3 separate regions of the Homo sapiens genome follow, and regions 1 and 2 are each reported to be linked to region 3. The links are microRNA targets in miRTarBase. Many come from high-throughput screens and were not tested one by one. Region 3 holds a microRNA gene; each other region holds the end of a gene's coding sequence.
Evidence for each region. The annotated mature microRNA hsa-miR-6882-5p reads UACAAGUCAGGAGCUGAAGCAG and lies in region 3 at 1,725-1,746, shown strand. An mRNA with a match to its seed (bases 2 to 7 or 8) in the 3' UTR can be bound and repressed. Matches are read on the target gene's strand: a 7mer-m8 pairs with bases 2 to 8, a 7mer-A1 pairs with bases 2 to 7 and ends in A, and an 8mer does both.

Region 1 (4,121 bases), not on the chromosome of region 3:
GCATTTTCTGCCATCCATATTTGTTTCTGGAATTAAAACTGTCCTGTAGCCAGGATAACTTTAAGGGCTCCCCTGGTAGTTATAAGAGCTCCTTAAATAATGGGAAGGTTGAACTACACCAGTAGATAAAGGACTAATTTCCATTTTGTTTTTATATATGATCTGTCACCCCGTTATAAGCAGTTCATGACGGTGTTCTTTCTAAATTATTTTCTGGAATTATCTAACTGACATCTTCACTCCACAGCCGTTTCCCTGGGGAGATGGTAACCATACTCTATTCCATAACCCTCATGTGAATCCACTTCCAACTGGCTACGAAGATGAATAAAGAGAATCTGGACCACTACCCGGGCACCAGGGACCACAGCACTGGTTTGGACCGTTACTCTGCACATGGACCAGAAAAAGTATATGGGACCTTAAGCTCACCTTCTTTACTTGTATCAAATGATGACTGGTATACTGGTCTCCCATCCCTTTGCTTGTGGCAGGAGATGGCTTAAATAAATAACTTAAATTTAGATTGGTCATGAGCTGAGAGTTACTTTCTTTGGTTGTGTTTTTTCGCAGAAATTAGCATTTGAGCTTCAAGTCAGTGTCCAAGTTGAAAAGAAATTGGCATTAGTTATTTCTGTTTCCACAGTGAAGGTCTAGGCTGCTGTTTAGTGTTACAGGTCCAATTCAGCCCATTGAATAAGTGTTTATAACAGCCCCTCTTGGTTTATTGTGCCTGATGTGGATAAAGGGACCAAGTGGAGTGGTGCTAATTAAGCATCAAGATTAGTCCTTGGTCAGGTGCGGTGGCTCATGCCTGTAATCCCAGCACTTTGGGAGGCTGAGGCTGGCAGATCACCTGAGGTCAGGAGTTGGAGATCAGCCGGGCCAACATGATGAAATCCTGTCTCTACTAAAAATACAAAAATTAGTTGGGTGTGGTGGCGCACTCCTATAGCTGGGTGTAGAGGCTTGAACCCGGGAGGTGGAGGTTGCAGTGAGCCAAGATCGTGCCACTGCACTCCAGCCTGGGCAACAGAGTGAGACTCTGTCTCAAAAAACAAAAGATTGGTCCTTGACGGGCCTGAGATATCAAAGACATTGAATGGCTAGCAGAATGCCTGCAATTTACACCTGAAAGAGGTATCTGTATTTCTCAAGAGGAAGTGCTTGATCTGGGTCTCATCTTTTTCCTGTCCCATTCCACTAGCATTTACTGCAGAATCTTCCCTGTAGTCATAATTTTCTTGAACATGTCAAGTTCTTTTTTTTCTTTTTTTTTGAGACGGAGTCTCTCTCTGTTGCCCAGGCTAGAGTGCAGTGGCACGATCTCCACTCACTGCAAGCTCTGCCTCCCAGGTTCAAGCCATTCTCCTGCCTCAGCCTCCCGAGTAGCTGGGACTATAGGCACCCGCCACCACACCCAGCTAATTTTTTGTATTTTCAGTAGACACAGGGTTTCACCATGTTAGCCAGGATGGTCTCGATCTCCTGACCTCGTGATCCACCCGCCTCAGCCTCCCAAAGTGCTGGGATTACAGGCGTGAGCCACCGTGCCTGGCCTCGAATGTGTCAAGTTCTTACTTTGAGGTAATCTCCTTCAGGGCTGGTAGGGTCAGAAATCTTAAGAGAAACAAAGGGAGCGTGACACATTTCTGCTTATTGGCTTTTCTGTGGAATTAAAACTATCCTGCTTTAATGGATAGTAAATGGTAGTAGTAGTAGTTACAAAACCACTCTGAGAGGGCAATTATTATTATTATTATTATTATTATTTTTTTTTTTTTTTTTTTTTTTTTGAGATGGAGTCTCGCTCTGTCGCCCAGGCTGGAGTGCAGTGGCGGGACCTCGGCTCACTGCAAGCTCCACCTCCCGGGTTCACGCCATTCTCCTGCCTCAGCCTCCCAAGTAGCTGGGACTACAGGCGCCCGCCACTACGCCCGGCTACTTTTTTGTATTTTTAGTAGAGACAAGGTTTCACATGTTGGCCAGGCTGGTCTTGAACTCCTAACCTCAGGTGATCTGCCCACCTCAGCCTCCCAAAGTGCTAGGATTACAGGTCTGAGCCACTGTGCCTGGCCAGAGCTGGTTTATTTTATTTTATTTTATTTTTTGAGACAGAGTTTCGCTTTTGTTGCCCAGGCTGGAGTGCAATGGCATGATCTTGGCTCACCACAACCTCCACCTCCCAGGTTCAAGCAATTCTCCTGCCTCACCCTCCTGAGTAGCTGTGATTACAGGCATGTGCCACCACACCTGGCTAATTTTTTGTATTTTAAGTAGAGATGGGGTTTCTCCATGTTGGTCAGGCTAGTCTCAAACTCCCAACCTCAGGTGATCTGCCCACCTCAGTCTCCCAAAGTGCTGGGATTACTGGCGTGAGCCACCGCGCCCAGCCAGCTGGTTTATTCTTAAGGCTCAAAGGAACACTTTCGTGGTAAGGTTCAAGAGGCAACAAGGTATTTCATATTATATTACATTAAACTGGTAACGCAAAAGTAAGGCATATACAGTACGGAATAGAGAATCTCATTGTCTTTGCCATTTTGTAATAATTAACGGAATAGAGAATCTCATTGTCTTTGCCATTTTGTAATATTACAGCCTGCACTTCTGAGTCCCTATAGAGCTGTTTTGGTTGTGGCCAGTCTGAGTTTAGGACAGATGCATTATACTTCAGCTTGCTGCCTGGCCTCCCTTGGCTGGGTTCCAAACATCTTTTATAATCCTTGGATAATGGACCCTAGCCAGTCATAAAATATAAATGAAGAATGTTTTGAAATGACATTAAGGACAAGTCACATTAAATATGATGTAGCAATTGGTAAAGTGGAGAAAAGACAATAGAATTAGGGCCTTCTATAAATCAAGTTTCTTGGTTTATTTTTCAGACAGGGTCTTGCTGTGTCACCCAGCCTGGAGTGCAGTGGTACAATCACAGCTCACTGCAGTCTCCACCTCTCAGGCTCAGGTAATTCTCCCACCTCAGCCTTTAGAGTAGCTGGGACTACAGGCACACACCACCATACCCAGCTAATTTTTTTGTAGAGACAGGGTTTCGCTATGTTGCCCAGGCTGGTCTCAAATTCCTGAGCTCAAGTGATCCGCCCATCCCAGCTTCCCAAAGTGTTAAGACTACAGGCATGAGCCACCATACCCGGCCTGTAATTCAAGTTTCATACTACTTTGGGTATCTAATAAAACCAAATTACTCAATTAATTGTGGGGATTACGTGACATTCTGAGGTAAGTAAGTGCTCTCCTGATCCTTTTTTGGTACCGTAGTGTATTTGTATAGCCTATTGTGGAAATTTTAGAAATCAGTGAGGTTTTGGCTGGGTGCGGTGGCTCATGCCTGTAATCCCAGCACTTCGGGAGGTCAAGAGTTCAAGACCAGCCAACATGGTGAAACCCCATCTCTACTAAAAATACAAAAACTAGCTGGGCATGGTGATGCATGCCTGTAATCCCAGCTACTTGGGAGACTGAGGCAGGAGAATCATTGGAACCCAGGAGGTGGAGTTTGCAGTAAGACAAGATTGCGCCACTGCACTCCAGCCTGGGTGACAGAACCAGACTGTCTCAAAAAAAAAAAATGTGAGGTTTCTGATTGCCATACTGTACCACCTAGCTTAAGACAAGTCACTTTTTCTTCACCTTTAAGTTACAAAACACAAAACTCTCCCCACTGTATATATGAGGTTTGTAGGGTAACAGGGTAATAGTTCCATAAAATGCACTGAGTTCCAGAGGCAAATAATGATAGAAACTAAATGTTACAATTTATTCCATCTTCAGGATTACAGACATTACAGGGCAGGATGAGTAAACAAGGCAAATGAAGCGAGCACCTTCAGCTTCCCCCCTACCCCGACATTTAACCAGATGCAGCATTTTGACATTTTTAGGATATGCAGGTTGACAATTCACTGACTTGGGTTGAGAGCTGGCAATAGCAGATCTTTGCAATTTAGGTTCTTCCTCCACAGCTATTCCAAGTATCTTAATTCCTGAACTGCACACTGAGAGCTCTGAAATGGTGTTCACTGCAACATTCTTGCAGCTTTCACATCTTAATCTGACACCTCTTGTGAAGGCAGGGAACTGTGTTAAAAGCTGTCTTC
Region 2 (4,145 bases), not on the chromosome of region 3:
AAAGCATCAGCCCAAACCACTGCTCCTTACACTTTTAAAAGAAAACCCCTTAGGTAATGCATATTTTCAAATATGAGGCAAATCTCAATTATGCACACTTAATCATAGGTTAAGGTTTTTGGTAAGTAAAATATTCTTATTTTATAAAGGATGTTTATTTTGGAATCTTCTTTGATTTAAAAAATGTGTTGCTCGAATATGTGCTGTTTGCTCAAAGAAGAAAACAAAGTCTTCAGAAATGGCAACAAAACAAACAAAAAAGCGAAAAAGCTCTTGAGGAAACAGCTTTTCATTGACCTTCTAAATAAATTCCACAAGGGGGCGAAAACACCTAATGGTCCGGGGCTGCAAAGTTTTTATTGCAAAGCTGGCCACCCATAATAGATTAGTGGATTAATATTTTTCTCTAAAGGATCTGGCCTTTAATGTTGACATCAATTTATAGCCATCCCAGGCGTTTACAGTAGTAAAAGTCATGGAGACCATAAACTTCACAATAGATGTCAGCCTTCTGCTACTAGTGCTCTAGCCCAGCACCCCATAAACAGTGGTGATTAGGTAACTGTTCTTCAAAGACCCATCCATAGCTCTAACGTCTTTATCAGCTCCCGCAAAGATACTGTCACGAGGATTTTATCAGGCACAAGACAGAAGTATACGTTTTTATTAATGTGGACTTATTTTTCTGACATGTAGCTATGAGGTTGCACTGCAGCTTATCATTGATCTCTTCTTGAAAATCAAGCATGGAGTGTCTATTTTTGGGCAAAGCTTAAAGAACAGAAGCTCTCTTGTATCATATTAGAACTTTTTGACAAACAGCCAAGGTACAGAGGTCAAATTTCCCCATATGCTATAAGCAACTTAGTAGGAAGCAAGACCACAAAAGGTTTTGCAAATGTCTGCCAGTAGCCGGGTGATCTAGGTCACTGTACAGGTTTCATTAATCAGGTTGTTGAAACAAGGAGTTATTTTTCTCTGCTTAAGAGACCTGCAGATATCATGTAGAATCTGCTCAATTGTTGATCAAGAAAGAGTTTTTAATGAAACAGAGATCACTCAAGTGAACTGGGGTGCGGGAGCGTTTGTATTTGTACTGAAGACAAATTGTGCTTTTTAGCCCAGCTCCTCTGTTTGAGTCCTCTGTTCTGGTAGGGATGGGCTCAAGATCTAATAATAGTTCCTTGGGCTCTGCATCTCCACATACGTGTTCCGGCGTTTGAGCAGCAGGAGGAATTTAGTGACAGAGCAGGTGTTGTGGCTTATTCCCTGGCAGAATAAATGGTGAAGGGTGGTGGCAAGACAATTCTTTGGCTTCTTTATGCAAAAAAAAAAAAAAAAATGCATTTAATCACTTTCCTTTTTTCCTGGCACTAGTGAAAAAGGATTGGAGTTGCTGTATTAATATGTATGCAAACATATTTTTTCACTTAAGCCTCTGGAAAAAAAAAAGAGAGAGAGAGAAAGAAAAACTTACTGTGAAAATGCTTAGCCAGAAAGATTCATTGCTGATTGCAGATTTAGTATTGACATGTCTTAGCTGAAGAAAACTTCAGCTTTAACTATTAATGTGGAAATCTGGATCAGCTTTTAAAGTAGGGTAAAAAGAGTTTTGGATGATTCAGTATATTTATTTGAACATAATTTTAAAGAAGAAAGTGTCAATTATAGAGGTATATAAAAAACCCAGTGGAGTGTGTGCATTTTAATTTTACATGGCCTACCTTGGAAATAAAATTATAAAATGCAGGTGATCTGAATTATACTTAAAGCAGCCTTTATGCCCAACTTACTCTCTCATAACACTTCTAAATATCCGCTCCTCCTGATTTCTTATAAAATATGGAATTTAAGATGAGAATCGGAGTCTAAATGAAATGTTCTTTTAAAGCATTATTTATAAGATTTTCCTCAACCTACATTTTTTACTTCCCCTAGTAAGTTGCGTACAAAAGTCTGTATTTTTTCTTGAAGGTAGGTGTGTTGCTCTTATAAACATAAGATAAGCCATGAAAACATGAAAAACAAAATTCCTTCTCCTTCCACCTGGGATAATTTGAGATTTTCACAATATTACTTTTTCCTTTGCTTGATTATATAAGGCAAAACTTGATACCCACTTAGTTGTAGCTATGGTCTTCTTGATAAGACATCTATCCAGGTAAAATTAAAGTATAATTTTCAGGTGATTTGCATCCCATGCATGCAACAGGAAAACTCAGAATTCAGGAAAACAGGGCATGCTTAAGAGGGAACATCTTGTAAAGACTGTAATTTGACCTTTGAGTCAACCTGAGTACATTTTAAATATTATAGGACAAAAGCCTCAAAGTGGAATTCTGCCTCATCTTTCTCAGAACTATAAACCAGTCAGACACTGTTTCAGAGATTACGCTAGAAAATATGTACCTATCCTTGGCACTTTTGCTGAGAAATAAAACTCTCATCACTGGAGATAAAGGTAGATTTATATTTAATGCCACCCATCAATCAATCAGTGTATTATTCCAATCTACCTCTATTTAAGTAGTTGAATCAGGTATAAACAGAAACACTTGATTTTTTTTGCCTCCTGCCCATTGAAAAAGATAATGTTGAGTATTGCAAACCTTTCTAACTCTGGAGTACACTTGATATGATGGCAATTAAGAAAAAAAAAAAAGCAGTGACAACTTTGCAGCTTTTGATTAAAGCACACCAAGAGGCATGTTACAATGATAACAATGAAGCATTATGCCAATTATGTTAAATCCTGCTCTCCGCTTAAGCTCATCATGACCTGTTTTAGTGTCCTGTAATTTATCCTTTGGAATGCTTACTCTCATCAATAGTGTTCAACTCAAAGACGGGGGGAAAAAAGCCACCAAAGGGAACAACCACCCCCAAATGACTTCTAGAAAACAAGTTATTTCTTAACTTTTTATTGACATTGGCAAATTAAAATAGAATAAATTAACAAGTATTTTTTCAAAAAAATGTTTTGTACAAAAATACTGTCAAAATTTCCTAAAAAGCTTTCAACACAGTAGTATCTTTTCATGTACTGAATATAACTATTAGCACAGTGTCAAAAATGTTGAAGACAGAAACAAAATAAAAATCTGTGAAATGTTTGCCACTGACGACATTCCACACCCTATTATCATCTGTACATATGGGGGTGGGGGGGGCGGCGGGGGGGACAGCCAACTTGAAAGTGAACAGTATGACTTTCCTGATCCAGAACAGTTTGGCCCACATCTGTTTAATCTTCCAGTTTAGCATATTTTAAAAATTAGTCTGTACTCAAATGCATAGTTAAAAAAATGAAGCGAGATGGCAGTTTGTGCAGTAATATCTGCCCTTCGAAGTTCATGCAACCAACTAATGCAATTTTTCCTTTCACTCGTAAATCTGAATGCAGTTCAGTCATTTGAAACCATCTACAAAATCCACAAGATTAAGCAGTTTGCCAAGATTAATATCTAACAGTTGAGCACTGGAGAAAGTGAGGGAAAGGAGTAAAAACAAACAACGAAAAAGACCAAGTTAGCTAGATATTTCAACTACATAAGGGAGGTGGGTGAATGTCAAGGCTACAAAAACGAAACAAAAACAGGAAAAAAAAGTGGCAGCAATTTTTTTTAAAACCAATTTGTACAAGTTTATAGTTTACTTTGTTTCCAAGTTCTCAAACCTTTCAAGATCTGAAAAGTGAGATACTGTGTCTAAGGGAATGTTTCTTTTAATTCACGCCGAAGAAGTTGGGGGTTTGATTTCTTTCGCCGGGGTTTCGATCGAGTCAACAGCTCACTCTGCTGGGCTGCTGTTTGCACACGAAGTCCGTCATAAAATCAAACTCGTTTTGCCCCAGCCAGAGTTCGGGCAGCTCCTTGATGCGGTCCAAACCCATTTCTATCACCAAGGACATAAGAACTTCCTCGTCGATGAAATCAGTGTCTATGACATTGGGCGGCAGCATTGCAGCGGGGACGTGGGCCACGGAGGCGGGCATGTTGCCGCTGCCGCTGCCGCCGCCGCTGTTGCTGCTGCCCGCGCCGCCGCCCGAGCTGCTGCCAGAGCCGCCGGGGGTGCTGCTGCCGCCCGAGCCGCCGGGGGTGCTGCTGCCGCCGCTGTGCTTGGGGTTGCAATCTCGGAAGTGCTGG
Region 3 (4,145 bases):
TCGCAGAAGGACACTCGTGAAGTGGTAGCCATAAAGTGTGTAGCCAAGAAAAGTCTGAACAAGGCATCGGTGGAGAACCTCCTCACGGAGATTGAGATCCTCAAGGGCATTCGACATCCCCACATTGTGCAGCTGAAAGACTTTCAGGTGTGAGCCTGGGGCGGGGCCGCTGCCAAAGGGAGCTGGAGAAGGGACACTCTCTTCAGGCCGCCTCTCTGCCTCTAAACACAGTGGGACAGTGACAATATCTACCTCATCATGGAGTTTTGCGCAGGGGGCGACCTGTCTCGCTTCATCCATACCCGCAGGATTCTGCCTGAGAAGGTGGCGCGTGTCTTCATGCAGCAATTAGGTAAAGGCCTGTGACACCAGCCTGACACTCTGTCCCTTGTTCTCTGCCCCCCACCATCCCACCCCTCCCCCAGGCTTAGAGCCTTGGCACGCATTGCAGCTGCCTCCTGCACAGCCTGAAATTTTATGGTCCTGTTTATCTCATACACTCAACCCTTGCTCAAGGACGCTGTGGGAGAGATGAGGGGGTAACCCCTCTGTGGGGTGTTCAGGCTTCCATACATAGAACATAATATAAGGACCTTGTAGAACATTCCAGAGTCCTGTAGGTAGGACTCAAGTGCTGTGCCAAGGAAAAGAGCAGGATCTCAAGGGCTGGGGCATCCAGAGAAGCTTCTGAGAGGTGGGGAGACTTGTGAAGGGGCAGAGGGAAGGAGGGTGGGCACTCGGGTGGGGTGGCAAACTCCTAGAAGTGGTGTGATCTTGGTGCTTATATGGAAAACATTAGACCAGCCAGGCAGGAACTGGGGTTGTGCAGGCTTGAGGAGGCAGATGTGAGCCGGGGAGGCGAGAGGCAGGCGGGAATGGGCTCTGAACTGTCTCTCTTCGTGGGTCCTGCTCCTCAGCTAGCGCCCTGCAATTCCTGCATGAACGGAATATCTCTCACCTGGATCTGAAGCCACAGAACATTCTACTGAGCTCCTTGGAGAAGCCCCACCTAAAACTGGCAGGTCTGTGTCTGAAACAGCAGGGATGAGGTTTGGAGAGTGCAGAGGCCTCCCTCTGCCTGGGCTCACTCAGCAGCCCTGGTTCTTATGGAGCCCTCTATAGAGTCCTCAAAGAGTGACAGGCCGTGAAGTCTGGGGTTGGGCCCTGTCATCAAAAGGTGGAAGCTTTCTCAGGCTACCCATGCTCAAGTCCAGCAGCATAATGGGTGGAGTTAGGGCTCAGTCTGTGGCCAGAGTTGGGACTCACTGTGTGTCCAGGTTTAGGGGTCAATCTGGGAACAGTGCCAGGGTTCAGCGTGTGACAAGCATCAGGGATCCCTCTGTGGGCAGGGACAGGACTTGGTCTGTCATCAGAATTGGGGCTCAAGTCTGTGACTCCATCTGTGGCCACATAGGAGGGGTGTGGTGGGGGAGTAGGAGGTGGTGACCCTTGATAAGATTTGGATAATTGACACTGGAGGCCAGAGACTGTGATAGAACCTAAGCCTGGGGGGACAGTGAGAGGGTGGGGGCTTATGCAGGTAGCTGGTGTGATCAGGTGGGCTTCCTAGGAAAAGGTGCCCAAGGGAGCTGGGAAGGATGGGTAGGTTTTATACCCCAGAGGCAGATATAGGAGGGTGTTCCAGCCTAATGATGAGCAGAGGCTTGGAAATAGGGTTGATCCTGGCGGGTCTGGAGGGTGGAGAGGAGCCTGGGGTGAGGCTTTACAAGTCAGGAGCTGAAGCAGCTGGAATTCAAGCCCTGCTGCCTCTCCTCTTGCCTGCAGACTTTGGTTTCGCACAACACATGTCCCCGTGGGATGAGAAGCACGTGCTCCGTGGCTCCCCCCTCTACATGGCCCCCGAGATGGTGTGCCAGCGGCAGTATGACGCCCGCGTGGACCTCTGGTCCATGGGGGTCATCCTGTATGGTGAGACCTCTTTTCCCTGCTTCTCACCCTGAGGCCTACAGTTTCCTCAGGCAAGGCCTCTCTGGGCCACTTCTGAAGGGTTCTGATGAAAACTGACTGCTGGCCCAGGGCCCCTGCTGAGGGGCGTCAGGCCAGGCTTGACCCATTCCCTCCCAGCCTCCGCTCTGCCTCCCTTCCACAGAAGCCCTCTTCGGGCAGCCCCCCTTTGCCTCCAGGTCGTTCTCGGAGCTGGAAGAGAAGATCCGTAGCAACCGGGTCATCGAGGTGTGTCTAGCAGGGCCTTAGCGACCACTGGGGGGCAGAGGGAGTCAGGGCCCTGAGGGTTTAGACCTCGTTCTGACCTGCAGAGACTGGAGTATGGGCTCCAGGCTGCCTTTGTGGTGGAGGGGCAGGTTCTAGGCTGGAAGTCGAGGTGCCAGGCTGTCCCAGGGCCTCAGGTCAGCCCACAGCTGGCAGCACAGTGCCCATTTTGCAGGCCCTTGTGGGGAGAATGCAAAGCAGAGCCAGGCCCAGCCTTCCTAGGAGCATAGTCCAGGGAGGGAAATAAGGACCCAGAAACACGATTCTAGCTCAGCTCAGGGCTCCAGCGAGGGTGCACCGGGAGCCCAGGGATGGAGGCCTCGCTCCCCGCTGGCTCCATCATCCTGACCCATCCTGTTCCTCCTCGGTCTCAGATTCCCCACCTGTCCAACGCGTACCTCTGGGGTTCCTCGCAGACCCCTGGGCTAGGGGTAGGGGTGGAGGAGCCCAGTGTGATCTGTCCCTGCCGTTCCCTTCCCTGCAGCTCCCCTTGCGGCCCCTGCTCTCCCGAGACTGCCGGGACCTACTGCAGCGGCTCCTGGAGCGGGACCCCAGCCGTCGCATCTCCTTCCAGGACTTTTTTGCGCACCCCTGGGTGGACCTGGAGCACATGCCCAGTGGGGAGAGTCTGGGGCGAGCAGTGAGCAGACGGCTGGGGCTGGGGTGGGCTGAGGGTGGGCTGGAGGTCTCCTTGCCCCCGTTGGTGGTGAATTGGTGACTCACCCAACAGAGACAGAGGGCGGGCTCAGGGGAGCTGATCTCCCATCTTGGTGAGTGTGGGAGGGTAGGGAGGTGGACCTGACCCCTGATCTGCCCATCCCCAGACCGCCCTGGTGGTGCAGGCTGTGAAGAAAGACCAGGAGGGGGATTCAGCAGCTGCCTTATCACTCTACTGCAAGGCTCTGGACTTCTTTGTACCTGCCCTGCACTGTGAGTCCCAGGCCATGCCTGAAGCCCGTGGGTGCAGCAGGGATGGGAGTCATCTGTGGCTGCAGTAGGTGGATTCCAGAAGTTCTCTATCTAGAATTTTGTAGGCGATAAAGCAGAGCGTAAACCTGGAATATTGTGTTTTGAGGGATTCCAGAGGGTTCGTTGTGGGGCAGGGAGGGGTTCGCCCAGACTCCTCATATGACCTCACTTTCTGCAGATGAAGTGGATGCCCAGCGGAAGGAGGCAATTAAGGCAAAGGTGGGTGAGAGTCCCCATGAGGAAGTGGGGGGGCAGGGGGTAAGGCCCGGAGATCTCGGGGGCCTCTGGGGAATGGCTCTCTTAGAATTGGAACTTCCTCTCCTGCAACACAGAGCTGGGAATGGGTCAGGCCAGCCACATTTGCCCCCTGACATGTTTATAGCTTGAGGCAGTCACTAACAATGCAAAGGGAGAACTTGGAGGTGGGTTCTGGCAAGGGTAGCTGGTGAGACAGCCCCTCCTCAGGCCCTTTCCCTGCTACAGGTGGGGCAGTACGTGTCCCGGGCTGAGGAGCTCAAGGCCATCGTCTCCTCTTCCAATCAGGCCCTGCTGAGGCAGGGGACCTCTGCCCGAGACCTGCTCAGAGGTAGACTCCGGTTTCTGGCTGACCCCAGGGCCCCCAGCAAACCTCCCCACAGCCTGAGGGGGAGGCGGGTGGGGAGAGGCATCCTGCAGCGAACAGGCAGGTTGCTTCCCTCACCCTGAGCCTTTCCCCTCATCTCAGAGATGGCCCGGGACAAGCCACGCCTCCTAGCTGCCCTGGAAGTGGCTTCAGCTGCCATGGCCAAGGTTTGTGCCAGTGGGAGGGGTCCAGGTGGGTCGGGGCAGGGCAGGGAGATACCCAGGCCATGACCCTAAGCAGCCTGGTGTCCTTGTGGCTGCAGGAGGAGGCCGCCGGCGGGGAGCAGGATGCCCTGGACCTGTACCAGCACAGCCTGGGGGAGCTA

Region 1: miRTarBase lists COX6A1 as a target of hsa-miR-6882-5p. Seed matches in the 3' UTR shown: 7mer-A1 at 440-446.
Region 2: miRTarBase lists CITED2 as a target of hsa-miR-6882-5p. Seed matches in the 3' UTR shown: 7mer-A1 at 3,638-3,644.

The regions. Positions count from the first base shown.
Region 1 is chr12:120,440,207-120,444,327 of GRCh38, forward strand. COX6A1 (cytochrome c oxidase subunit 6A1) reads left to right here. Exons shown (of 3, transcript NM_004373.4): 3 at 248-524. The coding sequence ends at 331. It overlaps TRIAP1 (TP53 regulated inhibitor of apoptosis 1), which reads right to left. Exons shown (of 2, transcript NM_016399.3): 2 at 3,758-4,121. Among named protein-coding and RNA genes, the nearest start is that of TRIAP1, 4.1 kb to the right of the region's middle.
Region 2 is chr6:139,369,351-139,373,495 of GRCh38, forward strand. It overlaps CITED2 (Cbp/p300 interacting transactivator with Glu/Asp rich carboxy-terminal domain 2), which reads right to left. Exons shown (of 2, transcript NM_006079.5): 2 at 2,457-4,145. The coding sequence ends at 3,782. Among named protein-coding and RNA genes, the nearest start is that of CITED2, 3.2 kb to the right of the region's middle. RefSeq lists an enhancer at 1-287 and a silencer at 4,007-4,106.
Region 3 is chr15:74,838,282-74,842,426 of GRCh38, reverse strand. MIR6882 (microRNA 6882) reads left to right here and starts at 1,720; the gene lies at 1,720-1,785. It overlaps ULK3 (unc-51 like kinase 3), which reads left to right. Exons shown (of 16, transcript NM_001099436.4): 2 at 7-147; 3 at 232-352; 4 at 918-1,022; 5 at 1,786-1,929; 6 at 2,111-2,193; 7 at 2,714-2,869; 8 at 3,054-3,159; 9 at 3,377-3,417; 10 at 3,682-3,784; 11 at 3,923-3,987; 12 at 4,083-4,145. RefSeq lists an enhancer at 1-277 and a silencer at 2,754-2,901.